4 linked regions of the Homo sapiens genome follow. The protein of the gene in region 1 interacts with the protein of each later gene in a pairwise test. Each region holds a gene or a part of one and is shown in the gene's direction. Other genes may lie near its edges.

What was found.
Region 2: the proteins of MAP3K5 (region 1) and GDAP1 interact in binary tests that used the Homo sapiens proteins (3 or more experiments, as listed by UniProt).
Region 3: the proteins of MAP3K5 (region 1) and KLK6 interact in binary tests that used the Homo sapiens proteins (3 or more experiments, as listed by UniProt).
Region 4: the proteins of MAP3K5 (region 1) and YWHAH interact in binary tests that used the Homo sapiens proteins (3 or more experiments, as listed by UniProt).

What each region holds. Positions count from the first base shown.
Region 1 is NC_000006.12:136,558,478-136,565,500, reverse strand, and holds part of MAP3K5 (mitogen-activated protein kinase kinase kinase 5), read left to right. Parts: intron 1-2,885; coding exon 2,886-2,998; intron 2,999-3,855; coding exon 3,856-3,968; intron 3,969-6,624; coding exon 6,625-6,701; intron 6,702-7,023. UniProt on the Homo sapiens protein: Serine/threonine kinase which acts as an essential component of the MAP kinase signal transduction pathway. Plays an important role in the cascades of cellular responses evoked by changes in the environment.
Region 2 is NC_000008.11:74,345,707-74,353,410, forward strand, and holds the start of GDAP1 (ganglioside-induced differentiation-associated protein 1), read left to right. Parts: upstream 1-4,696; 5' UTR 4,697-4,755; coding exon 4,756-4,872; intron 4,873-5,565; exon of another isoform or gene 5,566-5,567; coding exon 5,568-5,760; intron 5,761-7,704. UniProt on the Homo sapiens protein: Regulates the mitochondrial network by promoting mitochondrial fission.
Region 3 is NC_000019.10:50,966,592-50,974,161, reverse strand, and holds the start of KLK6 (kallikrein-6 isoform A preproprotein), read left to right. Parts: upstream 1-4,570; 5' UTR 4,571-4,672; intron 4,673-5,394; exon of another isoform or gene 5,395-5,570; 5' UTR 5,571-5,621; exon of another isoform or gene 5,622-5,645; intron 5,646-5,808; exon of another isoform or gene 5,809-5,889; intron 5,890-6,049; 5' UTR 6,050-6,057; coding exon 6,058-6,097; intron 6,098-6,665; exon of another isoform or gene 6,666-6,836; coding exon 6,837-6,993; intron 6,994-7,570. UniProt on the Homo sapiens protein: Serine protease which exhibits a preference for Arg over Lys in the substrate P1 position and for Ser or Pro in the P2 position.
Region 4 is NC_000022.11:31,947,524-31,954,546, forward strand, and holds part of YWHAH (14-3-3 protein eta), read left to right. Parts: exon of another isoform or gene 1-1,629; intron 1,630-5,880; exon of another isoform or gene 5,881-5,983; intron 5,984-7,023. UniProt on the Homo sapiens protein: Adapter protein implicated in the regulation of a large spectrum of both general and specialized signaling pathways. Binds to a large number of partners, usually by recognition of a phosphoserine or phosphothreonine motif.

The sequences.
Region 1 (7,023 bases):
ATGATTGCACCATTGCACTCCAGCCTGGGTGACAGAGCAAGACCCTATCTCAAAAACAAAAACAAAAACCTGTCTCAAGAGGAGCTGCCTGTTTATTTAATTTCCCCATCCTACAGTTCTGGAATTACCCACCAATCCACCTCATCACCCCTGCCCATCCAAGGTTAAAAATTGACCTCATGGCAGATCCTGCCATACTTTTTTGGAACAGAAAGGCAGACAGTTGCCTTGATTTCAAAATATTGCCCTGCTAAATAAACACAAAATAAAAATAAAATTGATGTACTGGATTGTTCTTAAGATAAATACTTCTAAGAGCTGGATTCGGAGCAAATGAGGTGGGCTGTCAATACTCTGCTTCCAGTGTTGAAGTTCTGGTGTTTAAGGTGTTAAAAGAAAGCTTCAGACAAATTAAATTTAATGGAGTTTAATTGAAAAAGAAAAAAATAGTTTGTGAATCAGGTGGCCTCTAGAATCACAGCAGATTCAGAGAGATTCCAGGGATGCCTCGTGGCCAGAACAAATTTATAGAAAATAAAAGTAAAGTGACGTACAGAAATCAGAAGTGTGCAGAAAGAGCTGGATTTGTTATGGGTTGGCGTTCACCTTATTTGAACACTCAGCAGTGTATGAGTGGTTGAAGTATGGCTCCTGGGATTAGCCAAGACTCAGCTATTGTTATAGACGCATACTCCTAAGTTAGGTTTTCAATCTTGTCTACCTGTTAAGTTATAGTTTGTCCACGAGGACTCAAATATGCAAGTACGGAGTCCTTCTCAGGCCATATTTCATTCACTTTAACAAAAGATAAAAAGAAATTACATAGTCTAGACAAACATAGGTTAAACTCTAGAAAACATCACTGTGTTCCTTGAGAAAACAGTAAGAAGATACCATCACTGTCTTATACGTATAAATTAGCAAGTAGGACAAAAATACATACCAGATCAAAAAACTGCCAACTTAAACATTCACACAGAGCTTCCTGCCCATTTCTTTGGATAATATTTGTTTTGAAAGAGATAAGAAGCCTCCCTCCAAGACCCTGTGCTCCCTCTTCTAGCTTTCAGTTCATGCTGCTTCATCCACCTCATTGTGCACCACACTTACCCTGCAGCTGTCTTTGTTAACTTATTTTCCTCCACCCACCTTCTCTGTCTACCTCTTATTGTGTTTTACTTTTGTCCCACCTCTGCTACCTACTCTGCTGTGATCCCTTCTCTCTGAGGATCTCATCTTTATGTCCTGTGGGAATGGGGTCGAGCCTGGGGGTCTGGGAAGGTTTCCTTCCCACTGAGTCCTGGAAAGGCTCTTTTCCAGGGACTGAGGTAGCAAGGAACAGAACATCCCTTATTAAAGACCAGACACTGACTTGGCACTGTACCTATGCTGTCTCATTTAATGCTCACAATAATCTTTTCTGGAAGCTTTAGTTTTCTTTTTTACAAATGATTTGAAAACTGAAGCCTGGAGGCATTAGGTAATTTATCTAAGGTTAACACAGGAAGTGCAGGGTTGAACCAGGACACAAGCCCAGATCTGTCAGTTGCACGATGCTGCCTTCAGATTATGTCAAGTGAAGCAGAAACAAACTCTTGAGTTAAATCTATCAATACTCAGAAAATGAAACAAATAGAGTTTGTTAAGAGCTGTAGTTTATGCAACGATTTATCCTGATAATCTTAATAACGATATATTTTAAATTATTATTTCTGAATCCAACTTACATTAAGATACTTTTCTAAAAAATTAGAGCACCTCTTTTCATAACTTGGAATGTTTTCTTTGAGAAATTCTATTGGAAATGGTGAGTAGGTTACCAGTTGGCTCTCAGTTGCATAGTGAACCTTCTATGGGTAAGAACTTTGGTATGAATATCACAGTTTCTCCTTGTTTCTTTGGAGACTGCATCAGATGCCAACTAGGAACTGAATGTACCAGGAACACAGCTATCCTTTTACCCACTTCACCCCCGCCCCCTTAGAAGGAAGAGGAATAATAGTAACAATCACAATTGTAGCAACAACCGTGAACATTTACTGAGAATTTGTTATATGCCAGATATTCTAGGCGACCTCACCTATGACTGTTTCTCAAATTTTCATAGTTTACAAAAAGTGATTACTTTTCTGATTTGCATTGATTATGAAATTATGCACATTTGCCAACTTTTTTTAATGGGGGTCCATACATGTAAAATATAGGCCTGTTAATATCTGTATCCCATATTTATATCTTTGACATTTATGGTCATAACAAGAAATATCAGGACACATCTCTGAAGATTTTGGCAGACAATCTGTGGTGGAGGTTTTGAATTCTTGTCGGCAAGCACAGTCTTCCAAAGCTTAGCTTCTGGACCTGAGGGTCTGTGAACCTGCAACATCAGTGTCATCTGGGAGCTCATTATAAATACAGTCTCAGAACTCACCCCCGGGGCACTGGACCAGTATCTGTATTTCAATAAAATTAGGGGTGTATGTGCTTATTATAGCTCATGTCTAGAAGGTCATCCTAGGCCTGGCACAGTGGCACATGCACACACCTATAATCCCAGAGCTTTGAGAGGCTGAGGTGGAAAGACCACTGGAGGCCAGGAGTTCAGAGACCAGCTTGGACAACATAGCAAGACTCTGTCTCTACAAAAAAAAAAAAAAAAAAAATTAGCCAGGCATGGTGGTGCATGTCTGTATTCCCAGCTGCTTGGAAAACTGAGATGGGAGGATCGCTTGAGTCCAAGAGTTTAAGGATGCAGTGAGCTATAATTGGGCCACTACACTCAGCCTAGGCAACAGAGAGAGACCTTGTATCTAAAAAAATAAAAATAAAAAAAAGAAGGTCACCCTGTGTCACCTCCTGTCAAACAATATATTTTTCTTCTGCAGATTACTGGAAGAATTGGTTCGGAAAGAGAAAGAATTACAAGCACTCCTTCATCGAGCTATTGAAGAAAAAGACCAAGAAATTAAACACCTGAAGCTTAAGTCCCAACCCATAGGTGAATAGCAGAAAGTTTTATAGTAATACTGTTCAGCCAGGCTGCCACAAAAAGCCAAGAAAGCCAACAGGAAGTTTTATTTGTGGCTAAGTCAGCATTTCTCACTTCTACCATGACTGCAAGCAGGAATTCCTTTAAAAAAAAAAAATCCAGTTTTTAACTGTAGCAAACTCATTTCTTATAAGTGCAGTAAAAATAGATTATTCATAATCATCTTTTCCTGAGATTATGTATTACTGAGGTAAACAGGGCTCTCTGTTTTTAGTCTTTATTTTTAAAGATTTCACAATGAGCTTACTAGAATAAATAATACTATTTTTTGTCATTTTGCATTTATATTCTGTGTATTCTAGCCTTTTTCCTTATAATTTGAAGAGGCTTAAATAGAATAAAGATGTAGTAGTAAAAAGGCATAGCTGGGGAGAATGTTATTTAGCCCATTTAGAGGAAAACAGAATTCATAGTTATTTGTTTAGATATGTGGCTCTTTCATAGTGGAAAAAGAGATTATGATAATTATATAGTTCTCTGCTAATTGTATTCATCTTTATTGCATGAAAAACACAAAGTCTAATTTTGGTGCACAGAGTTTATTCTAAGAAACCATAAAATTGATATGAAAGTGTAACGTAGGAGTGTCATTTCATTATTGCTTTTGCTCCTTATTTACTAGTAAATTCACTTCTCTGAGTTTTATTCATATTATCATCTATACTGCCAATCTCAATTGTTTCTATGAACTGTTCTCTGATAGAGCAAAATCTTTTAAAGTATCAATAAATGTCTGTTGATTGTGAGGGTCTCAGATGACCTCTGTTAGGTGAAATTAAGAATATCTTCCCAAAATTCTGTTCTAGAAATTCCTGAATTGCCTGTATTTCATCTAAATTCTTCTGGCACAAATACTGAAGATTCTGAACTTACCGACTGGCTGAGAGTGAATGGAGCTGATGAAGACACTATAAGCCGGGTAAAGAAAACTGTCTGTGGGACAAGTATTCTTTCACTTCGTTTCATAATGTTGGGTGCCTGCTATGTGACAGGCACAGGGGATACACTGGTGAGCAAATCAGACCCAGCCCTGCCCTCCTGAGGCTTACAGACCAGGGTAGGCACGTGATAATCAGCTAACTCCACAGATACAAATGTGATTCTACACTGGTAAATTCTATGAAGAAAAAGGTATCAGGTGTTTATTAGATAGGGCGAGAGAGGTTGGGGAAGGTTGTTGGAGAAGGGAATGAAAGAGCTGAAGGCTAACAGAATGTGAGGGTATAAATAGGCCAATTGTATGTATGTTCAGGAGGGGTGTGGGAGGGAGACCAGGGAAGAACCTTGTGCAGTGGGGCTGCAGTGTGTACAATCCAACGAGGCAGGCAAAAGCTCTGTGGTCCTGAGCCCCTTAGGAATTTTATGTATTTGAAATGAAAACCAGAAAGAGTGGGAAAAAAATAAAGACAGGACTAAAAGAAAAAATTTCTTGTTTCTAATTCTTTGTATGTTAATTTTTATTTTATTTTATTTTATTTTATTTTATTTTATTTTATTTTATATTTTTTTGGAGACAAGGTCTCGCTCTGTTACCCTGGCTGGAGGGCAGTGATCATAGCTCCCTGCAGCCTTGACCTGCTGGGCTCAAGTGATCCTCCCACCTTAGCCTCCTGAATAGTTGGGACTACAGACATGAACCATCATACCCAGCTAATTAAAAAAAAAATTTAGAGATAGGGTCTCGCTATGTTGCCCAGGCTGGTCTTAAACTCCTGGCCCCAAGCGATTCTCTCACCTCAGCCTCTCAGAGTACTGGGGCTACAGGCATGAACCACCACGCCAGGCCTGTTTGTTAAATTTTTAATTCTTTTTCAACATTATTAGATTCCACTGGGCAGCAGCTATTTTATTGCTACTTAATAAAATCAATCTGGTCGACTTATTTCAGAAATATTTTCTATACAAACCATATTTTACCTGTAATAATCTAATTCCTCTCTGCTCTGTATAGACTTTTTTTGATTTTGTTTTTTGAGACACAATCTCACTCTGTCGCCCAGGCTGCAATGCTGTGGTGCGATCTCAGCTCACTGCAATCTTTGCCTGCCAGGCTCGAGAGATTCCCTGCCTCAGCCTCTCAAGTAGCTGGGATTACAGGCATATGCCACTAAGCCTGGCTAATTTTTGTACTTTTAGTAGAAACAGGGTTTCACCATATTGGCCAGGGTGGTCTCGAACCCTGGCCTCAAGTGATCTGCCCACCTCAGCCTCCCAAAGTGCTGAGATTACAAGTGTGAGCCACTGCGCCCAGCCCCTATAGACTTTTGTAATGAGCGTGAATAGCATTTGTTTATGTTCATTATATGAACACACAGGCATACATTAAAACATTGTAATATTTGATAGAAAGACCCTCTTAATACAATATTGTTTTGTTTTATATTTAAATTTTAAAAATAAATAAGAATAAAGATATCTCTTCTTTTGACTTGATAATTTATTAACTAAGTAGAATTTCGGGCCGCCTTAGAAATCTACATTTAACAAGTTACAGCTGAATAAATTTAAACAACTCCAGAATATACATTCCTCTAACTTAGGCTCAAATCCTAATTAAGGAATAGTAATTGATAATCTACTAAATAATCACCCTTTTTATTTGGTTTAAAAGTAAAAGCTTGAGGCCAGGTGCAGTGGCTCCTGCCTGTAATCCCAATACTTTGGGAAGCATAGGCAGATTGCTTGAGGCCACGTGTTGGAGATTAGGCTGGTCAATATAGTGAGACTGTCTCTATATATAAAAAAATAAATAAAATTTAAAAATATAAAGGTGCAGTTTAAATTAAGACTCTGCTTTTATGGTGAATTACAGTCAAGTGCCTTTGCTTAACCATGAAAAAATAAGTTCAGAAATTAAGCATAGGCAGTACCTTTCCAGGAACACTTTTTATCCACTTGAGGAAAAACAAAGCTATGTAGCATTGAACTTCTAAATACAAGATTTGCTTTTGAACAGCAGAGTGATTACAAGTGAGTCTCATCTGTTCATTAGAAGACCATTCAGAAGTTCTGTGTCACTTGTAATCTTTTTGCATTTGGAAGTTAATATGGATGCATTTCTTGTTTTTGTTTTTGTTTTTGTTTTTGTTTTTGTTTTTTTGAGACGGAGTCTCACTCTGTCGCCCAGGCTGGAGTGCAGTGGGTCAATCTCAGCTCACTGCAACCTCTGCCTCCCGGGTTCAAGCGATTCTCCTGCCTCAGCCTCCCAAGTAGCTGGGATTACAGGCATACGCCACCACGCCCAGCTAATTTTTTGTATTTTTAGTAGAGATGGGGTTTCACCACTTTGGCCAGGCTGGTCTCGAACTCCTGACCTCAGATGATCCGCCTGCCTCAGCCTCCTAAAGTGCTAGGGTTACAGGCGTGAGCCACTGCGCCCGGCCTGGATGCATTTCTTTGTATTTATTGAGTAACAGGGAGGCCTTTCCCCTAATAATCCTGGAAGATTGTGTTTTTAGTAGATTTCATTTTTAGATTCATTTTTAATTATAGTCAAGGTTTACATTATGAATAGAGTTTGTGCTTTATTAAAGTTATATAAAACATCTTTTGTGCATATTCTACTTTCTCTACAGTTTTTGGCTGAAGATTATACACTATTGGATGTTCTCTACTATGTTACACGTGATGACTTAAAATGCTTGAGACTAAGGTACCACTTTTCTTTCTGTTGTCACTATGGAAAGAGCACCAGGCAAATATCAAAAAGTCTGAGTATCTTCCCAGGCTGGGTCTCTAATTAGCTTTGTAGTTCTGGACAGAGCTCTCTAGCTCTTAGCTGCTCTGAGTAAACTGAGTTAGTTGGACAATGATATTTTTGAGGGCTCTAATAACCAATATTTCTATATTAGTAAGTGAAAATCAACTGGAAGAATTTTTTTGAATAAGATGCAGACTAAGTCCATGCAGATATTCTGAAGCTGCCTTAAACAAATGCTTTAATTGAGTTCATGATGGTGTTATACTCAATAAAT
Region 2 (7,704 bases), on another chromosome or scaffold:
AGCATTTTGACAAGGACTTTAATGGAACAGTATCCATCTGCATGGACTCATTTTCAATAAGGTGGCTGTATTTTTCTCCAAAGTCCACCTCAGGCTGGTTAAAGTTTGCAAGTCCACAACTTTCTCTCTTTGGTTTAAGGCTAGCATAGTGTAGTAGAAGCTAATACTTGACTAGTAATCAGAAAATGTGTGTCTGAGATGTAGTTCTGTCACCGGCTCCAGGATTTTGGACTAGTATTTCACTTACTAAACCTCATTTCTTTAGCTATAACTGTAGTGGAAGCTCTTCTAATTTAGGGATGGTAGCTACCTCACAGGCTATCATGAAGATCAAATGAGATTGTAAGAAAGCCATTTGCGATCTTTAGATGCAGACGTTCTACTTTATACCTTTTCTTTATAAAGTATTAATATTGAACATCAGTGCAGTCATCAGTTCATCAGTGTTTACTAGTTCATGGTTTTGCTGCTGGGAATATGTGCTAGAGAAAGTGCTCAGTGTTTGATAGTGGGCAGATTGACCTGTGCATATCCATGTTCTTCCTAAGGATAGTGAAGAGAATGAAAAAATAATAAGCATAGTGGGTGTCTCGGAAATGGAGAAGGAAGCAAAAGCTGATTAGGAAAGTAAAAGGTACCGAAAGCAAATTAGTATGCAAATTTACTCATTCACAAATTTACCCAGGGTTCTCTTTCTCCTCATCAAAACAATTTATTAAATACTAAATAAGATAGATACATTCAATGGTATAGTAGTAAATATTTAACAACCAACTTTCTGGGAAAAAGTTAAACATGATAGCATTTACCGATTTCTGTAAATAGTTCTACCATGGCCAATTTCAAGTCACTAACATGACATCACTGAACAGAGAGGAAGAGATATGCAAGTAGCACATCCTTATATACTGTTTGCCTTGTATGGATATGATAGACACAAATAAACTCAGGAGTATAGATAATAATACACATAATTAGGAAGTGATGAGTTTTAAGTATTTGCTAGTTTTATTTTTAAAATTATTTATCTATTTATTTATTTTTGAGATGGAGTCTGTCGCCCAGGCTGGAGTGCAGTGGCGTGATCTTGGCTTACTGTAAGCTGCGCCTCCCGGGTTCACACCACTCTCCTGCCTCAGCCTCCCGAGTAGCTGGGACTACAGGCACTCGCCACCACGCCTGGCTAATTTTTTAGTAGAGACAGGGTTTCACCGTGTTAGCCAGGATGGTCTTGATCTCCTGACCTCGTGATCCGCCCACCTCAGCCTCCTGAAGTGCTGGGATTACAGGCATGAGCCACCGTGCCCGGCGGAAATAATTCATTTAAATGCAACTCAGTTTGATTTAATTTTGATTAATAGCTGAGTTGAACATCCACTTTGCAAATTCCTGAAAATTTAACAATCAGCTATCATGAGCCAGTGGGGGCACCACCCTGGATATAATGGTAATTGTGTTAGTATGGTACTAGTTATGGTAAAGATTATCACCTCTTCTGGGAAGCCTATCTGTGTTAGGTGCCTTTCTCTATATTCCTACTATAACTTTCTAGATGTCACAGCAAGTACCACACTGTGTTGGGATCTCATTTCTCTGCCTTCACACTTGATTTCCCTAAGGCCAGTGACTGTGACTGACTTTGAACTCTGTATCTTCTCTATCTAGCACTTAAGGCTCAAAAAATGTATATTGAAAACAAATTTACCTGGACCTGGCTCCTGTCCTCAAGGAGCCCACAATGATCATGTCTATGATCTACAAAAACCATAGACACAGAATACACAGTGTAGTAGGAGCTCTGAATAAACATGTGAAAGGATAATAAGGTTTTTATATTACCAACAGTGGCTTTTATTGGGATGGGAAAAAAGTGATTATAGATCATTGGAAGTAGATGTAGCAGTTCTATTGTGATAAAACAAACACATTTTTCCTTATGTCATCTATTTAATGATATTCTTTTAGTGTTCACACCTTTAACAGGTAAAAGCAACACACATTCATTATAAAACAATTAGAGTATACAGAATCATAAAGAAATAAAAGCCACCTATATTTTACAAGATTGATGTATTGATGAGGATAGGTTAAGACAATAGCATCCAGAAAGCACCAAATAACAGTGCCTTACACAAGATCCTTTTTTTCCTTTTCAAGTAAAAGTTTGGAGGTTTGCAGACCCAAGTTGGTGTGGGTTCTGCTCCTCAGTGTCTTTAGAAGCTCAATTTTCCCCAAGTTCATGGCCCAGCTGTTCCTAAGGCGTGGCCCCATTCTTCATGGTCCAGGTCAGAATCCATCCTCTCTGAAGCAGGATGGAGGATGGGATGAAGAAGAGGCACAGGGCTAATTGTCTCTTTAAGAAAGATTCCCAGCACTTGCCCTGTGGCACATCCATGACTTTCCCCTTGTTAGAAGATAGTTAGGAGACCATGTTTTGCTGCAATAGAGCCTAGGAAATACAGTCTTTATTCTCAGCAGTCATGTGCTCAGCTAAAATTTCTATTACCACGGAAGAAGGGAAAAATAGGTAGGATCAACTGTCAGAATTTGTCAGAATTATTTCCTTAAATTGCAAATAGAGGAATTTCTAGGTTAGAAGTTATGCCCATTTTCACGATTCTTGAAGCATATTGATACATTTGCCTTCAGAAGTTCTGTGCATGTTTACACTCCCAATGAGATCTATGAATGCTTTGTACTAAACACCAAGTAATCAAGTCATTCAGTGTTTCTTCTATGGCTTTGCTGTGGGCAGGATGTGATGGAGAAAAGTGTTGTGTTTGAGGGACCAGGGCTTTATTGTCAGGACTTTTTCAGCTGCAGGTGACACATGGCTTATCACGAGTACTGGAATTTATTCAAATATTTAGGATGATTTAGTATTAAGGTTGGTGCAAAAGTAAGCGTGGTGTTTGCTATTGAAGGTAATGGAATAGAAAACTAGGAATCTGAAGGTGGATAATTAAAAAATGAAGTTCTGAAGAGGAATGGGAGAGGAGGATTATATGGGTAGTTGTAAAAATTTTGAGACCTACAGAGAGAGGATGAAATGTAATATAATGCCCTCCTAATGTCAGTGAAGGGGCTTTTACACATATGTTTTTATCAATGGCTACATTCCAGGCAATACCCTAGGTGCTTTATATATATCCTTTCTTGAATTCCCACAGCCATCTGGGTAGGCATATAATTTTTATGTATCCATTTTTTACACACAATGAAGTCAAAGCTCAAGAAAGCTCAAGTTAGGGTAGAGCTAGAATTTAAACCCCACTCTGTCCGATTTCAAAGTTTTCCTCTTTCCGCTCTTACTCTTAAGTGTGAACTGATAAAAACAATTTTGGCAAGGAATTCACCTTTTCTATAGCACTTGAATTAACTGAAGGATATAAAAGACATTATGAAATCTTAAAAAATTATGAAAGAATTACAGAGAGTAACAAATGAAGTACTGTAAAGGCAAGGAAGAACCTCATGAGATTTTGTCTTTTCCAGGGGCCCTTCTCTGACCTGGGTTGGCTGCCTGCCCCTCCTTTCTCATAGTACTCTGTGTTCACCCTAAGACAGTTCTCATCTTTATTGTGATTGTCTATTTCCTTGGTCGTCTCTACTGCCAGATTATATCTTGAGTGTTAGATATTAGATTTCACACATCTTTATATTACCAGGAGCCAGCACAATGTCTGGAACAGTGTAGGTGCTCAATAAATATTTGCCAGATAAATTATACAGGCATTTATTCTATGGTCATATTTATACATATTACTGAAAGAGATTTTTAAAATCAACTTACTATATGATGCCAAATTTTTAAAGACATACAATAATAACTAGACTAATATAAAATTATGATTCTGACTATGGTTATAACAGAATGTTTATAAGACAACTGAACCTGTGACTAAGACTGAGTGCCTACAACGTGACAGGGTGTTCTGAGTGTTTAACATTTTATTATTAATTTTTCACAAAAATCTTATGAGGGAAACAATAAAATTATTATTCTTACTTAGAAAATGGAAAAACCAGGATATGAACTTAGGCAGTACTGTTGTAGAATTTTTGTGTTTAACAACTAGGCTATTTTATATCGCCATTGTTTATTAGCTGTTTATGACAAAAACAGTTTTTTTGCATGACTCCATAGTGGTATTTTTTTTTCTTTTACAAAGCACAGTTTAATTATCAAAATCAAGTACTTACTGTTTATACAAGACTATTCTCTAATCTACAGCAGTTAGTCAAATTTGTGGAATTAGTCCACTAATGTCATAGTAGCATCTTCTAATGAAAGCTCATAGATCCTTTTCCTGTTGCTTTGCTTGTCGACCGGAACTTCCTTTCCAACAAAGGAACAGGCTCCAAGAGCAACCCTCAGTATCTTGGGAAATTGCTGCTTTTATACCTGAGCAACCTCCAAACCGAAGAGTAATTTGCTATCATCATTCTTCCTTACTGCCCTTCATAACCAGGGTCTCATATTTTTTATTTTTTCTTCTAAAAAAAAAAACAAACCCAAAAAACAACCGTTCAATTGCACCTCCCAGGTGCACTCCCAGGCTTGCCAGGGGCTTTCCAGTCGCAGACCCCGCGTGTTCGCAGACTCTGCCGCCGGCGAAACTACATTTCCCAGCGGGCCGCGCGCCCTCCTTCCGGCAGGTACCCCTCAAAACCCGGAAACGCCTTGCGGGGCAGTGTGGGAGGGAGAAGTCCAGGGCGGACAGGCTGGGCGCACCCGTGCTCGCGCACCCCAAGATGGCTGAGAGGCAGGAAGAGCAGAGAGGGAGCCCGCCCTTGAGGGCGGAAGGCAAGGCCGACGCGGAGGTTAAGCTCATTCTGTACCATTGGACGCATTCCTTCAGCTCTCAAAAGGTACAACAGGCCTTGGCGGCGGAGGGTGGCGCGGATCGGGCTTCAGCACTGGGACAGCTCCTTCTGAGTCCCGCCCAGGGAAGCCGGTCCACCTAGAAATCCGCCTCCAGTGTCCTGACCCCGGGCAGGCGCTCCCTCCAGGCGGGGACGCGCCCGGGTGGGGAGCGGGGAGAATCGATCGGAGATGATCCTATGTGGCTATGGCCCAGGCTCCGCCTCTCGCGAAATGCGACAAAAAAGCATCATTTTCAGTATTTGGTCTGGAGGCCTTGCCTGCTGGTCTTCGGAGAGAGGCAGAGGGAGGTGCCTTTGTGGACCCTCATAATCTGCGATCTCTTCTTTTGCTCTCTCGCATTCACTGTCTTCAGCAAGAGCTGATGTACCTACATGTCAGGTTCTTGTCTGGGGAGGACCCATAATCAGGTTTAGGACACCGAGAAAGTGGTAGTGATGAGGAGGGTGACTGTTTAATGAATACAGTCAGAATCATTTCATTACTTATTTTGTGTTCTTCTCTTAATTTGTTGAGTATTGTTCTTTCCTTACTTGTTAATTCCAGGAATAGGAATTGTTAAAACGACTGTTGAAAATGTCGGTAACACAGGGAAGCCCAGAAAGGCTGCTTAGCGGTGTCCAGGGAAGTCATTTAATTGAAAGCTTACATGTGTTGTAGTAACCAGTGTGAACTCTTCCAGGTGCGCTTGGTAATTGCTGAAAAGGCATTGAAGTGCGAGGAACATGATGTAAGTCTGCCCTTGAGTGAGCACAATGAGCCTTGGTTTATGCGTTTGAACTCAACTGGAGAAGTGCCTGTCCTTATCCACGGGGAAAACATAATTTGTGAGGCCACTCAGATCATTGATTATCTTGAACAGACTTTCCTGGATGGTAATGTTAAGGCTACTTGCGATTTCTTGGATTTACTTTCAACACAACTATGTGTTCCCTTTCTCTTTTTCTCTCTCTCCTCTCTCTCTTTCTCTTGTGTCATGATGGTGGTTTGGGATTAAAAACCTTTTCCATTTCCATAAGCACACAAATATCAAATAGGTCAATAACAAATTTTGTATAGGCTAGTGTAATGCTATTTAAAATAATTTAATGCAAAATACAAATGTTAATGTTGAAACTTAAAAAAATTCACTTGCAAAAAACTGCAAATGTGTGGTTTGTGTTGGTGATTTCTTAGTCTTAAATTCATAATATTCTAAATGTGCACTGTGACGATTTCATCTAATATACCAAATGGTTTCACCTTAAAAACAAGAGGGAAAAAAGAGCAATAAATCTTAAAGGAGAATAGAATGTTAGTATACCTGAGTTCTTTGCCCCAGTCACTTCTGAATTGTTTGAATTTTATATCTTTACTAAGGAATTATAGGGCTTAAATTTGTATAGTGCATTTAGGTAAATCATTTATTAACAGCTTGTTATGTGTCAGACATTTTATAATTTCTTCAATAATGTCTTCAAAAGTATCTGTCTGAGACAGGCATGGTAGACAAGTTATTCCCATTATGTAAATGAGGAGAAAGCAACAGGGTTGCCCAAAGTAATATAGCTATTGTATGGCAGAGTCTTTGGTCTCCAAAGCCTTCATACTACACTGACTGTCTCCCATAATCCTTGCCACTTACACATTGTCTTGCTTGTTCCTAATAATAATCCTTTGAAGTGAACTGTAGCTTCAAAGAGTTACCAAAGACTACACAGCTGATCACAATGGACATTGATGAGAGCAGAACATGGTGCTCAGAGCTTCCAGCTGAATGCTCTTCTAAAAAGGCTGTATGAGATTGTTACTTTTCATCTGCCACCAGTTATGTTGATGTTAATAGGGTAGGTGAAAGCAGAACCTAGCCCCAAACTACAGGAAGCTGACAAAGGAAATTACTAGGACAAAAAAAAGTCTCATGTACTTAGAAGGAAAATGAGTATTATTAGGCCTAGATGGTGGGCAGTGGCGAGGGGGAAGCCCAGGGAATTAGATTAGCAATGGGCTACCCCTGTTCTTAATCTAAGTGCTAGTCCCCTAGGATTGTGATTGGCGGTTTTAATTAAAGGTAGCTTTAGCGTAAACCAAAGCATTTAATGATGTACTTTCTTTTCATCTTTATTTGCTATTCCTTATAAATTTATATGCTGGGGACTGTACTGAAAATGACAACTAGTTCATTTAAGAGAATTTTTCTCAATCTTGAGCTTTTTGGAAATGGATAAGTGTGTTAATTTGTATTTCTTGGGGGATGTAATTATAATGGAACAAAACAAAATAATTGTGTTAATAAATCTATTTTAAATGATCAAAAACTTTAAAAAGGTATTCTAAATGGAAAATCCCATTTAAGTTTTTTGGTAGCATTGCCTGAACTGCTTCTACTATCATCATTCCCCTCCTCCATCCCCTCCTTACACTGTTTTTCCTCTAAGAAATTCAGTGATATAAATTATATTTACAACATAGTAATGTTACCAATTATTAGGTTTTCTTACAATTTTCCTTAGTCTTTCTCTTTTGCTTTTAGTACAGAATAGTAACAAAGCAGAAATAAGTTCTGTGTCCTGCTAAGTTGTATTTAAATAACCAAACAAAGGAAATGCTAAGTTCTTTTGATTACTTAAGAATTAGAAGAGAAGGCACTGTAGGCTGTGACAGGATGGAAATATGGAAAGTGCAGACTTTAATTCTGGTTGAACTATTATTGTAACTCAGCAATCAAGAGTCCTAGCTTTTAGTCTGATGCTGCCACTAACTTGTTGAATATCTTTCAATCAATTGGGAAGGACGAAAAAACGATTAAGGGACCCAAAACTTATGGTAGATAGGACGAC
Region 3 (7,570 bases), on another chromosome or scaffold:
GGCGCGATCTCAGCTCACTGCAACCTCTGCCTCCCAGGTTCAAGTGATTCTCCTGCCTCAGCCTCCTGAGTAGCTGGTATTACAGGTGCCTGCCACCATGCCCGGCTAATTTTTGTATTTTCAGTAGAGACCAAGTTTCACCACGTTGGCCAGGCTGTCCTCAAACTCCTGACCTCAGGCAATCTGCCCGCCTTGACCTCCCAAAGTGCTGAGATTACAGGCATGAGCCACCGCGCCTGGCCCAGGCATTGGTTTTTATTGTTTATGACTTCTGGCACTTTTTTCTGCTTACAGTCTCATGAAGTTTCCTTATAATTTTTTTTTTCTTTTTTTCACATAGGGTCTTGCTCTATCATCCAGGCTAGAGTTTGGTGGCATGATCATAGCTCACTGCAGCCTCAGTCTCCTGGGCTCAAACAATCCTTTTGCCTCAGCCTTTCGAGTAGCTGGGACCATGCCTGGGCTGATTTTTTTTTTTTTTTTTAGTAGAGACGGGGTCTCACTATGTTGTCCAGGCTGGTCTCTAATTCCTGAGCTCAAGTAATCCTCCCACCTCAGCCCTCCAAAGTGCTGGGATTACAGGTGTGAACCACTGCACCGAGACAGAAGAATTTATTTAGTGAAGAGTTTTGCAGAGCAAGACAATCTGGAGCAAACTATCCAGTAAATAAGCATTCAAAGTATGCAGAGATGGCAAACCATGAAGGTCACCAGAGAAGAGGTAGAGTTAGAAATTTCTTTCTCTTCAAAGTCCCTCCACTCCCCACAGCCTAACACCTCCCTTCTTTCCCCACCCAGCTCTCAACAATTCCTCCCAAGTTCACTCACCTCGTACTGTCATAAGATAGACCCAGCCAGGCCACCAAGGGATGGGCCACATCCACGCCATGTTGGAAGCTGAGTTCCCATTCAGGCTCCACCATTTCCTGGATGTTTGATGATGAGCAATGAACTTCCCGTTCTGAGCCTCAGTTTTCTTATCTGTAAAATGGGAGTGGGTGTGATAAAGTCATTTAGTCATTTGGTCAGTCTTGCCTAAGGCTTCTTCTGGGCAAGGTCCTGTGTGGTTGCTTGGGACACAGGGATGAGTCAGTCCCGTACCTGCCCTCAAGGAGCTCACGGTCCAGTGGAAGAGATGACGAATGTCAATCCAGGTGGCCCCCCGTCCAGGTTGGGTTGAGGGAGACACCTGCTGTGGGAACCTACGTGAGAGAATGAGTAATCCAACTACAGCAGGTGGCAGCTGGGTGGTGTTCAGGGAAGGTTTCCTGGAGGAGGTAATGTCCAAGTAAAGACTTGAAGGACAGGTTATTGCCAGGAAAAGGTGGGGAAAACATGCTAAGAAGAGAGAATAGGCCAGGCACGGTGGCTCACGCCTGTAATCCCAGCACTTTGGGAGACCGAGGCAGGCAGATCACCTGAGGTCAGGAGTTCATGACCAGCCTGGCCAACATGGTGAAACCCCATCTCTACTAAAAATATAGGCATGGTGGTGTGTGCCTGTAATCCCAGCTACTCGGGAGGCTGAGGCTGGAGAATTGCTTGAACCCAGCAGGCGAAGAGAGATCGCGCCACATCACTCCAGCCTGGGCGACAGAGCGAGACTCCATCTCAAGAAGAAGAGGGAATAGCATTCAGTGAAGGGCCAGAGGCCAGAGGGCATGGCATGGGTCAGGGAAGCTTGATGTGTTCTAGAAAGCTGGAGCCACACGGAGACGTAGACATAGCTGTGTCATGCAGTGTGAGGGCCACTCACCACTCAGGACTCCTTTTAAAAAAATTTTTGACAGGGTCTGGCTCTGTCACACTGAAGTGCAGTGGCGTGATTATGGCTTACTGCAACCTGGGCCTCCAGGCTCAAGCAACTATCCCACCTCAGCCTTCTGCATAGCTGGGACCACAGATGTGTGCCACCACACCTAGGTAATTTTTTTCTTTTCTTTTTTTTGTTTTTTTTTTTAGAGATAGGGTCTCACTATATTGTCCAGGCTGGTCTCGAACTCCTAGGCTCAAGTGATCTTCCCACCTCTGCCTCCCAAAGTGCTTGGATTACAGGCATGAGCCACCTTGCCCAGCCATGTCAGGCTGGGGTGCAGTGGTATAGTCACAGCTCACTGCAGGCTCGACCTCCCAGGCTCAGCAATTCTCCCGCCTCAGCCTCCGGAGTAGCTGGGACTACAAGTGTGCACCACCACATCTGGCTAATTTTTTTACTTTTTGCAGAGATGGTTTCTCACTATGTTGCCCAGGCTGGTCATGAACTTCCGGACTCAAGCTATCTACCCACCTTGGCCTCTCAAAGTGCTGGGATTACAGACATGAGCCACCATGCCTGGCCTTAAATTTATTTTTTAATTGACAAGTAAAAATTGTATATATTTCTGGTGTATAACATCATGTTTGATATATGTATGTATATGTTGTGGAATGGCTAAACCAAGCTATTTAACATATGCATTATTTTACACCCTTATTTTTTGTGGTAAGGACACTTAAAAAATCTTCTGACTTAAAAAAAAAAGTATGGTGATTGGAAAATGTAAATGTGCATGCGTGCTTGGCATCACATTTCATTGGCCAGGACTTCCCTGGATGCTAAAGGTCCTCAAATGCCAGGCTGGGGGGCTGGGACTTGGTCCCAAGGGAGATGGGGACCCAGGGCACGTCTGTGAGAGGAGGGGCAAGGTCAGCACAAGGCACAGGAAGGTCTCTCTGGGGCAAGGGATACAGAGAACAGAGGGATCCTGGTCCAGGTGGGAGAGGTGCAGCTCTGAGTTGGGGTTGAGGGTGTGGGTACAGAGAGGAAGGGACCCCCCAGAGAGAGGAGGCAGAGGGATAGGGCCTGGTCACTGGGTTGTGCAACATCAGACTTGCTGTCTGTGAAGATAGCACGTCCTGAGAAGAAGGTGCTGAGGTCAGTGGGGACCAAATGTGAGAGGGAGCACCCGGAGAGTATACTGAATACCGAAGTAGTCTTCATCCCTGGAGTGATGGGGGGTGCACAATGCAAGATGACAATTAGATTCAATGCAAGACAAAGAAAAGGGTTGGCTGGGAACAGTGGCTCATGCCTATGGTCCCAGCTCCTGGGAAGACTGAGGCGGGAGGGTCGCTTGAGCCCAGGAGGGTTGAGGCTGCCACGAGCAAGGATCGTGCCACTGCACTCCAGCCTAGGCGACAGAACAAGACCTTGTCTCAAAAGAAAAAAGAACTTTTTTTTTTAAGTTACCTGTAGTGCCCAGCCCAAGCAGGTGCTGAGCCAGACTTCATTCCTATCATTGTCCTTATTACGCAGTGACTTCCCCCTCCTCATTTCTCTCCACTCTGCCACGCACACACCCTCACCCTCCAGCCCATACCAACCACCCCAACCACTGCCTGTGGTTTCCCATGTGCACCCAGGCCAGGCATTTTCACGGCCTTTCCTCCTGACCTACGCCTGGCTCAGCTTTCTAGGCCCAAGTTCAAAGACACCTCCCTAAATCTTCCCAGATCCCTCTGCTACTGCCCAGCACCACCATCTTATCACAGCCCCACGTCGTTCCCAAGTGCTCTCCGATTTCTGCTTAACTCCATGCCTCTCGCTGTGTGTCCGCATCTCATCAATAAGTCCTCAAGTCCTCTTCCATCCTGCTAGCTTCCTCATCGCTCGGGAATCATCCCCGCTACTTCCTGGGGAAACTGACTCCCTTCTGGGCACACACAGTGCTACCCCCGGGGAAATCTAAGAAGAGACCCAGGAGAAGATAAGCACGGAGAGTCAGAGAATCAAGGGGAAAGAAAGGGAGAGAGGCCGGGCACAGTGGCTCACACCTGTAATCCAGCACTTTGGGAGGCCAAGGTGGGTGGATCACCTGAGGTCAGGAGTTTGAGACCAGCCTGGCCAACATGGTGAAACCTCTTCCCTACTAAAAATACAAAAAACATTTAGCCGGGCGTGGTGGTGGGTGCCTGTAATCCCAGCTACTTGGGAAGCTGAGGCAGGAGAACTGCTTGAACTCAGGAGGCGGAGGTTGCAGTGAACTGAGATCACACCACTGCACTCCAGCCTGAGTGACAGAGCAAGACTCCGTCAAAAAAAAAGAAAGAAAGAAAGAAAAGAAGGAAGGAAAGAAAGAAGGAAGGAAGGAAGGGAGGAAGGGAGAGAGGAAGGGAGAGAGGAAGGGAGAGAGAGAAAAAAAGAGGGAGAGAGACACAAATACAGAGACTGAGATGGGAGAGAGAGAGAGATGGAAGCTCCCTCCCCTCCATGGCCAGGGAGACAGATGGAGCAAGAGACCTCAGGGGTGGGCAGACTTGGAGGAGAAGGACCAGGAGGATGTGGAGTGCCGAAATCTCCAGTCAGGGCCAGGTGGGCAGTCAGAGACTGCAAAGGAGGACTGTCAGACAGGGACAAAAGGAAGCCATTGATGTAACCGCCCTCCCGCCTGCCCGCCGGAAGAGAGGTTGAGGCCGGAGCTGCTGGGAGCATGGCACTGGGGTGCTGGGGGCGGACAAAGCCCGATTGTTCCTGGGCCCTTTCCCCATCGCGCCTGGGCCTGCTCCCCAGCCCGGGGCAGGGGCGGGGGCCAGTGTGGTGACACACGCTGTAGCTGTCTCCCCGGCTGGCTGGCTCGCTCTCTCCTGGGGACACAGAGGTCGGCAGGCAGCACACAGAGGGACCTACGGGCAGGTGTGTGAGTCACCCCAACCGCACTGAACCTGGGCAGGCTGCTTCCCAGTGCCGGAGGGCTCTAGAGCCCGGAGTGAGGGCCTGCAGGTCCCTGGGTGGCACAGAGAGTGCTGGGGGTGCAGGGAGGCCTGGGGCACCATCTGCTTGCCCCAGAGGCCGGAATTTGTCTTCAGACACTTTCTTTCTCCAAAACCCGGAGGTCTAAGGACTGAGCCGACTAGAACTTCCTCTGCCTCAGATTCAGGCCCCAGCCCCTCCTCCCTCAGACCCAGGAGTTTAGGTCCTAGCCCCTCCTCCCTCAGACCCAGGAGTCCAAGTTCCCACCTCCTCCCTCAGACTCAGGAGTCCAGGCCCCCAGCCCCTCCTCCCTCAGACCCAGGAGTCCAAGTTCTCACCTCCTCCCTCAGACCCAGGAGTCCAGGCCCCAAGCCCCTCCTCCCTCAGACGCAAGGGTCCAGGCCCCCAGCCCCTCCTCCCTCAGACTCAGGAGTCCAGGCCCCCAAGCCCCTCCTCCCTCAGACCCAGGAGTCCAGGCCCTCACTGCACTCAGGGACCAGTGCTCCCTTCCCTGGAGGCCTGGTCAGGGGTCACCAAGAGCAGAGCGTGGGGGCGGGAGGAATGTGTGTGGGAGGCCTGGGTAAGGAGGAAAAGGGTGTAGCCAGTCTCCTGGCTCAGGGACCTGAGAGACAGGGGTTAAAAGGACGTTCCAGAAGCATCTGGGGACAGAACCAGCCTCTTCCAGGGAGGCCTGGGAGCTGGGGGTGTGTGTCTGGCAGTCCCTGCAGCCCTGGGCTCTGCGGCCCCTGCGTCCTCCGCTTGGCTCTGCCACTGCATCTGAGTGTCTTCTCTCCTCACGGCTCCCCGCATTTCTAACTCTTTCTGCCTCCTCGTCTCAAAGCTGTTCCTTCCCCCGACTCAAGAATCCCCGGAGCCCGGAGGCCTGCAGCAGGTGAGATCACAGACATCACAGAACCTGCCGGGTGGGCGGGGTGGGTGGCCATTGCGCACAGAGCCAGGCTCCGAGGAAAACTCCCATACAGAGGAAGAACGCTAGGGCCCCCTAGGGTAACCCTCTCCTGTCGACAGGAAGGCAAATCAGTGCCCAAGAAAGTAGAAAGATCTAATCAGAATCTCACCATGGGTTACTGGACCAGTGGACGTAGTTCTGAATTCTCTTTGGCACTGTTTTCGTGGGATCCTCTGATGGAAGATGTGGGCTGAGGAAGAATAAATCAGGAGGCTAGATGGGAAGGACAGAGGTCAAGGCAGGAGACCATAGCAGGCCAGGAAGGAAGGAGAGGATGCAGAGGGAGCAGACAGAGGGATGGGGGGAGGGTCGAGGCAGTGACTAATGGACCATGTGGCTTCCCCTCTCAGGAGCGGCCATGAAGAAGCTGATGGTGGTGCTGAGTCTGATTGCTGCAGGTGGGGAAAGGGCATTTGGATGGGGGAGGCTTGCAGACAGGGTTGGGCTTGTTGATGGAGAAGAGGCTGGTATTGGGGATGGGGATATGCACAGGGTTGGGGTGGGGGAGCTTTGAAATGAGGAAGACGTTGGGGATTAGGCTAAGGGTGGGGAATACAGATAGGGAGGGTGGTGGGAGGTGGGTTTGAAGATATGAGGGTTTGGGGTGGGGTTGGCTTTAGGGATGGGGATCTAAACATAGAAGAGGTAGGAGGTAGGTTGGAAAGTTGGAGAGAGCCCGGGAATAGGGGATACAGTTGGGTTTGTAATGGGAATGGGGTAAGTTTGGGAGTGGAAATACAGAGAAGCTTTTTTTTTTTGAGACAGGGTCTCACTCTGTCACCCAGGCTGGAGTGTAGTGGCATGATCCATAGTTCACTGCAGACTTGAACTCTTGGGTCTCAAGTGACCCTCCCACCTCAGCCTCCCAAGTAGCTGGGACTACAGGCGTATGCCACCATACCCTGCTAATTTGTGTGTGTGTGTGTGTGTGTGTGTGTGTGTGTGTGTGTGGAGATGAGGTCTCACTGTGTTACCGAGGCTGGTCTCAAACTCCTGGGCTCAAGCGATCCTCCTGCCTCAGCTGGGATTACAGGCATAAGCCACTGCACCTGACCAATCTTGACTGGAGTTCATGTTGAGGGGGATGCGCTTGGTTTCTCCAGAACTCCTCTCTGACTCAGATCTTCTCTCCCTCAGCCTGGGCAGAGGAGCAGAATAAGTTGGTGCATGGCGGACCCTGCGACAAGACATCTCACCCCTACCAAGCTGCCCTCTACACCTCGGGCCACTTGCTCTGTGGTGGGGTCCTTATCCATCCACTGTGGGTCCTCACAGCTGCCCACTGCAAAAAACCGTGAGTCTACACTGTAAATGAACAGCAGATGCGACTGAACCCTGAGGGTGTCTTATAGATGTCAGGCAGGAGGTGACATAGGCATCCCCCCCATCCCAGCACGAGGCCATCTGATAGCCAGGTGCATTCGGCTGTTGCTTAATTGAGTACTTAATGTGTGCCAGGCCCTGCGGGCATAGCAGTGGAAAAGAAAATAAAAAAAAGAAAACAAAAAAAAACAAGCAAAATTGCTGTTTTCCTGAACTTACTTTCTAATGGGGGAATTGGATCATTTGGGGACCTGCAGGGCGTGATGGGCATTTGGATTTAATTCTGAGCACAGTAGGAAGCCACTGGGCAGTTTTGTTTTTGTTGTTTGTTTGTTTTTTGAGACACAGTCTCGCTCTGTCACCCAGGCTGGAGTGTAGTGGCATGATCTCAGCTCACTGCAACCTCTGCCTCCCAGGTTCCAGCGATTCTCCTGCCTCAGCACCCCAAGTAGCTGAGATTACAGGTGTGCACCACCTTGCCTGGCTAATTTTTGTATGTTTGGTAGAGACGGGGTTTCACCATGTTGGCCAGGCTGGTCTCGAACTCC
Region 4 (7,023 bases), on another chromosome or scaffold:
GTCTTGCCTCAAACCTGTTGAGAACTTCTCTTCCCTGCTTCTCTCCATAATTTGAAGAAGCAAGAAATGTTTCTGAAGTGAAGCATAAAGGAGTATCTTCAAGCTCTATCTCATACCTACCAGCTTGCATAGAGTATAATAGTGGGAAGAAATATTGTGAAAGATTCTAGAACCTAAGTCCTTTCTAGGCTAGGCAATTCTAGGCTACACAATTCGTAGTCTCTGTAAATACCATTTGATAACTGAAATAAACCTATAAAGTGGGATTAAATGTTAGTCCAGAAGACTAAGTGATTTAAGGAAAGAGGGAAAATAACCAGATAGATTTCTGGTGGATATTCATAGACAGACATAATTTCATCATGTATTATGGCCCTAAGTCATCTATTTTATATTAAAACATAGATGGTAACTGTAAAGTTATCAAATGTAAAAATTACTGGGCTAGCATTGTGTTTTAACACTGATACACCAGTTGATTACAGTGTTGACAGAAAACGGGCAGAAACACGTTTAAAGTACCTGCAGAATATATATATAGAAATCTTTTTTTTTTAATCAGTGTTGACCAGGTTGGCCTCGAACGTGTAGCCTCACCTCCCCGAGTGCCAGGGCAACCGGCCTGAGCCACAGCGGCTCCCTAGAAATCTTAAGTGCAGGAAACAAAACTACAGTTTAAGGAAACAGGAGTCGGAGAGGAGGGGCATTTGGCCCAACCACTGGCAAAAGGCTGTTGTTGCAACAACTGTGAGATTCTGGGAAGTGGGGAAATGAGCAGGTGCTGTGTAAAAGTGCACAGCTGACTGCCCCAGGTGAGACAGATCAGTGTCACAGAGAGTAGGAGGATTTTGAGGTGTGATTAGTATTTTTTTTTTTTTTCTTAAAGAGATGGTCTCGTTCTGGAACCCAGGCTGGAGTGCAGTCGTGGCACGATCATAATTCACTGTAGCCTTGAGCTCCTGGGCTCAAGTGAACCTCCTGAGCAGCTGGGACTACAGATGCATGCCACCGTGCCCAGCTAATTATTAAATTGTATAGACAGGATCTCTATATGGTACCCAAGTTGGTCTCAAACTCCTGGCCTCAAGCAGTCCTCCTGCCTCAGCCTATTAAAGTGCTGGGATTACAGGAGTGAGCTACCACACCCAACCAGTAGGAAATCTTAAAGCCACATTGATACTACAGTTTGAAATATGTAAAAACTAGGGAGCTATGTTTCCCACTAACTGGGCATTTAAAATGTAATCGTCTTTGAGGAAGGAAGAAGGCTCTGGATTATTCTTGTAATAGTTTGAATTTAAAAGGTCCTTTCAGGTGGGCAAACAGCTTACGTGGCTTTCTTGCACTGAAATAGAAACTGTAGTCCCCATGTGGGTTTGGGTCCCTGAATTATCCCCAGAAGAACTTCCACAGTCCGGAACTGACTCCCTTAAAGAAACCAAAAATGTATTTTCTTTGGTGGGGATTTTCTTTAGTTGGTCTTTGTCTGGGATTTTATATCAGTGACAGACTGTAGCGTCACACTTTTCCAGAAATACGGTTTCGGAGAGGGTACCCCTAACGTTTTATGTGTGTGTGTGTTACATTTAGCAAGTTTATATAACATATTTTACTTTTTTTTTTTTTTTTTTTTTTGAGACAGTTTCGCTCTTGTTGCCCAGGCTGGAGTACAATGGAGCAATCTCGGCTCTCTGCAACCTCTGCCTCCCGGGTTCAAGCAATTCTCCTGCCTCAGCCTCCCAAGTAGCTGGGATTACAGGCATGCACCACCATGCCATGCCCGCCTAATTTTGTATTTTTAGTAGAGATGGGGTTTCTCCATGTTGGTCAGGCTGGTCTTGAACACCCGACCTCAGGTTATCCACCTGCCTCGGCCTCCCAAAGTACTGGGATTACAGGCGTGAGCCACTGCGCTTGGTTAGAACTTATTTAACTTTTTAGGCACTTGGTAAACGGTAGCTGTTAGTCCATGTGTACTTTTTTTTTTGGTGGGGGGGGGAGTCATGCTCTGTCACCCAGGCTGGAGTGCAGTGGCAGGATCTTGGTTCACTGCAAGCTCCGCCTCCTGGGTTCACGCCATTCTCCTGTGTCAGCCTCCCAAGTAGCTGGGACTACAGGTGCCCGCCACCTTCCATGTGTACATTCTTGTTTAACAATTCAGGATAGGTACTGTTACTCCCCTTTACAAATGAGACTTTCAGAGGTTGATTTTCTCATGGTCAAACAGCTAGTAAGTTGTGAATTCAAGATTCAAACTCAAATTTAGAGCTCTCATTTTAACCACTATGTAACAATGCCCCATGAGGCAAAGGGATAATATGTCTAGTATACATTCTGGTATATTAACCATTGTCAGCACTGGTGACTGAAATCCAAGAACTCTTCATAAGTGGGCTTACTAAACAAATAATTTTATCTGTTGGGTGCAAGTCATTTTTTTTTTCCAAATACGATTAAGAACAATCTGCCATTTATGGGTTTTAGCTACAACAGAGAAACATAAGAGGGAAACTCACATATCTGGATTTTGCTTGTTCTGAAGGCTTGGAGGCCTTTTTTTTTTTTTTTTTTTTTTTTTTTTTTTTTTTTTTGCTTAACAAAGTATTGAATTTGAGTTTCTCCTGAGTTAAGAAGTGCAGGACTATGTTACATTTTATTTGGGGTATTTTAAGAAATTATTTCATATTCTTGGCACCAGTTGTTTCTCCATATTGCCTTTAATGTATTTTTCTCCCTGCACCCTTTAGTATATTTTTATGCAGGCCCCAAAATTTCTGTCTCTAGGTTGCTGGTAAAATTCCTCCTAGTGTCCAAGTGGAGGCAGCTTGTCTTCTGTCCCAGCATTTTGGTGCTCCTCCCGCCCCTACTCCTGGCTGCAGTGGCATTCCCTTCTGCGGTGGTGAGTGTTAGCACTTCCAATGATCCGAACCTGGCACAGCTTCTGAAGCCTTCAATTCGGATGCCTCTAGGGACAGTAGCATGCAGTAATGCCATTCAGATGGTGTTGTATTTAATCCTTGCCAATCCCCATGAAAATGTTCAGTTATGTCAAAAGCAAGGCAAAAACAGTCTCTTGGCTATACAAGGGTAGCTGTTTTATTTGACTAAAATTTAGCTTAGAGTGGATGTTACTTACCCGAACTTGCCTGCTCTGAGCTTGAAGTTTAGCCTATTTGTGGTCTTACAGAATTGCAGCCTCATCCTGGTGAGGATAAGGGGCTCAGCCTGACCCTGGCTGGTGATGTTCTTGCCCAGTGGCCTGTAGGACTTGGTCTGTTGGTGGATATCTTTCCAGCTTGGGGCAGGCCAGGCAAGATCCTCACTTCCTAAGCATTAACTTGGGAAAGAGCTCAGCAAGCTTTCATCCCTCTAGCTCATTTTTTGTTTTTTTGAGACAGAGTCTTGCTCTGTCGCCCAAGCTGGAGTGCAGTGGCACAGTCCTGGCTCACTGCAACTTCCACCTCCTGGGTTCGAGCGATTGTCATGTCCCACCCAAGTAGCTGGGATTACAGGTGCACGCCACCATGCCCAGCTAATTTTTGTATTTTTAGTAGAGATGGGGTTTCTCTATATTGACTGGGTTGGTGTCGTACTCCCTGGCCTCAAGTGATCCGCCTGCCTTGGCCTCCCAAAGTGCTGGGATTACAGGTGTGAGCCATCACACCTGGCCCCTCAAACCCTCAAACTGACTTTTCTCACACAGACACACACACATACACGTACACACACACTTCTGCCAAAGAAGCTTAAAGGTTTTATGATGTGGTTATGTTTACTTAATCATGAGAATCATTTACTCATATCAAAAGCAAGCTGGTTGATAGCATGTAGGTGTGGGTAGCTATAAAGGATGAGCCCATAGCATGTGTGGAGCTGTGAAGGATGGCAGCATATTCGAGTGAGGTAGCATTACCCCTAACTTAGGCAGCTATGGCCTGGCAGCTCGGGGGTGGCATTTTTGTTTGCTCAGTGTTACTTTTGATGTTGGATGTTTCCCAGATTGAGAACTTTAAATTTTCCTAAATAGTCCCTGTACTGTTTTTGGCAGTGGATCTATTTTTACTCACACACATAGTTTTTTGCCTTGTGAGTAGTGGGTGGAGGCCCTTAGGGGTTTTTGGGTAAATGAATAGTGTCATAGGAAGATAAGTGAATGATCAGCAGGCCAGGTCATTTTTGACATTTAGTAATGTTGGGGGTAGTCCTGGAGCAGAGAAAATGTGTGAAGTGAGTGCCCTGGGGTGGGGACTAGGTGTAGCCAAAGGCTGTTTGGTCAGGACGTGAGTAAAACTGGCTGACAGGGAAGTCCAATCCTTAAAAGAAATGGAGAGGAGGGCCTTTGTGCATGGGAAGAGCCCATCAGTTTAAGGTTGTCCTTCAGGAAGGGTGTAAGTAGGATTACAGAGGGTGGGAAGGCAGGCAGGACACCTAGAAAGCAGAGAGGCTGTGAGCAGGGGTGGCGAAACCCCTGGTTTGTGGCCCGGTGAAGACTCAGTGCCTAGTGTGGCTACACTGAGGGAAGGTGCCGTGTGGCAGAAATGACTGTTGTAATCTTGGTGTTAGAGCGGAAAGAGGCTGAAAACTATTGTCTAGGCCTGTCTGTAAAATTCTGTCTTGTTGTTGCTTCATGTTCCTGATTTGTGGAGATGCAGCAAATGTGATTTCATTAGATTTTGCAGATGATCTTAGGTAGCATGGTCGGGGCCTGGAGAGCATCCATTACTCTGTGTTGCCACCCGGTGTTTGCCTCTCAGTACAGTTTATGACTGAACTTTTCATTAGTTCTCCTGGCTCCTGTATTTTGGTATTTGAAGTGTTGGGAACTGGTGCTAAGTATCATCCATCAAGATTGGCTATCCATCTTTTTGTTTTAATGGACTGTCTGATTTTACATGGGTCTATAATTTTCCAGTCTGGGAAAAACTCAGTTTTCTTTAGTTATCTGGTCAAGTAGTAAGCCATCTTCATTTCATGTTTCCTTTTGTTAACTGAATTATAACCCAGGAGTATTAAAAAATACTGTATTTAAATGTATCCAGTTATTTCCTAGTTAGGCTCTGGCTGGGGTATTAGGAACAATATTTGCTTGCTGAGATATGTTAGTCACCCTCAGCTAATGCTGATAGTGATTCATTCAGACTGGCAGGCAACCAGATGATTTTTACATAAACACTAATACTCCCAGTAAATGATTTTTCTTGTGAAGGTGTCATCATAAATACTGCCCAGTAGCCTTTTTTGGCAGCTTATTCCTGATGGAGAAAGAATATGCTTACAGATACACCCAAACTTCACGTTAGTAGGAAGCCCTGCCACACCTTTTATTGGTGCACAGGAAAAACGAAATCATGGAACATTGGAGCTGAAGGAGGCCTTGGAGATCATTTGGGCTAATCCTGCTTATTTTACTTTGGATGTCCAAAAAGGTTGTGATTTGTTTAAGGTCACATAGCTAGCTCAGACTAAACTTCAGATGTCTTGGGTTTAATAATTATACCGCCTTTTGTGTTATGCAAGCATTCTGTATTATACATACATGTATTTCAGATTTGTACTCACTTTAAATGATATACTCTGGGAAGTTACCTTGGTGTATCTTTGCCAGTTTCACAGAAGCAGCTTTGTTAGTCACAGGAGGAAGTATATTGTGACTCCTTATGGATATTATTTGTATTTTAATGCCAAATGGCCTTAGTTTAATTACTACAAGATGAAAGGAGCTCTCCAAATTCTGTTGTTGCCTTATGCTTTGTTTTATTGAATATTGCTCTAGAAACGCAAGTCATTCTAGAGGATTCAAGCATTCTGAAATTTATCAGAATATTTGGGATGGAATTTTGATTCAGAAGTGTTGTTCGTTAAAAGACTAAGTAGTTACTCATCTTTTTGTAGTTCATAAGTGTGATGATTGGGTTTTGACATGCAGGTGTGAGATGTGCCACCCTCAAACCTTGTTACAACATAGACATGTGACCCTCTGATGTGGGCAAAAAAAGACTAAGTTATTAAATATTTACAAAGTCTCTATTTTCCGTAAGAAAATGTATGTAAGTGTTTAAAGGCACTTACTGGAGGAGGAAACTAGTGGGGTTATAGGTGTTCAGCTGGATTTAAGGGGAGCATGGATTGTAGATTCATGGTAGACTGGGGCAGATCACAGTGAGAGGTATGGAGACTACTAATGAATATGTGAGGATGAATAATGAGAACCCTGGCTTGACCAGAGTGGAGGCAGCACCCCTGGGGAATGGTCAGGATAGCTGTTAGCCAAAGACCACACTGAAGAAAGAAGTGGGTAGGCAAAGGAGAGACTTTGCCTGTGTTAAGGGTTTGTAGCAGAAGAGTAGGGGTCCTGGGGACAGGGAAATGGAGAAATTAAGAGTGAGCTGGTATTTTTATTTTGTCTGGGGCTTGGGGGTAGGGAGGACTCAGACAATTGCTTGTTTTACTTTGTGAGAACTTGGCACGTTTTCTGATTTTTACCTGTAATAATGATTACACTTGCTGCTTATGTCCTTGAACCACTAATTCCCCAAATAAACCATCATTGTTCATGATTTCTGATACTCCACTGCTCAGTCTTCTCAATCCATTTTAAGTGTGTCTATTTGAATATGCTATTGATAACTTTCCCCAATGAACTTGGCCTTTTCCCTCTGGAGGTTCTGTCCTTACAGATTGGTTTAAGTAATACCTTTTTTGTTTAGTGTTTTATGGTTTCCTAAGTGCTTTGCTTTCTTTTTTTTCATTATTGAAATTAAAGACCTTTTGGATAAGCAGAGACTGATTTAATAAAATTAAAGACCTTTACCAGTAGGTCATATTAAGGAATCCCTCTACTTTAGACGACACACCATCTTTTAAGGGCTTGTGAAATGTCCTGGGTCAATTTAGGAAGTCATTTTCTTTGCTTGGGCCCAGACCAACTCTGTTAGCAACTCTGTTAGGAACTCTTGTTAGGAAACTCTGTTAGTTTCCTAGGGGGTGCTGAACCTAGTACGACAAACTGGATAGTTTAAAATA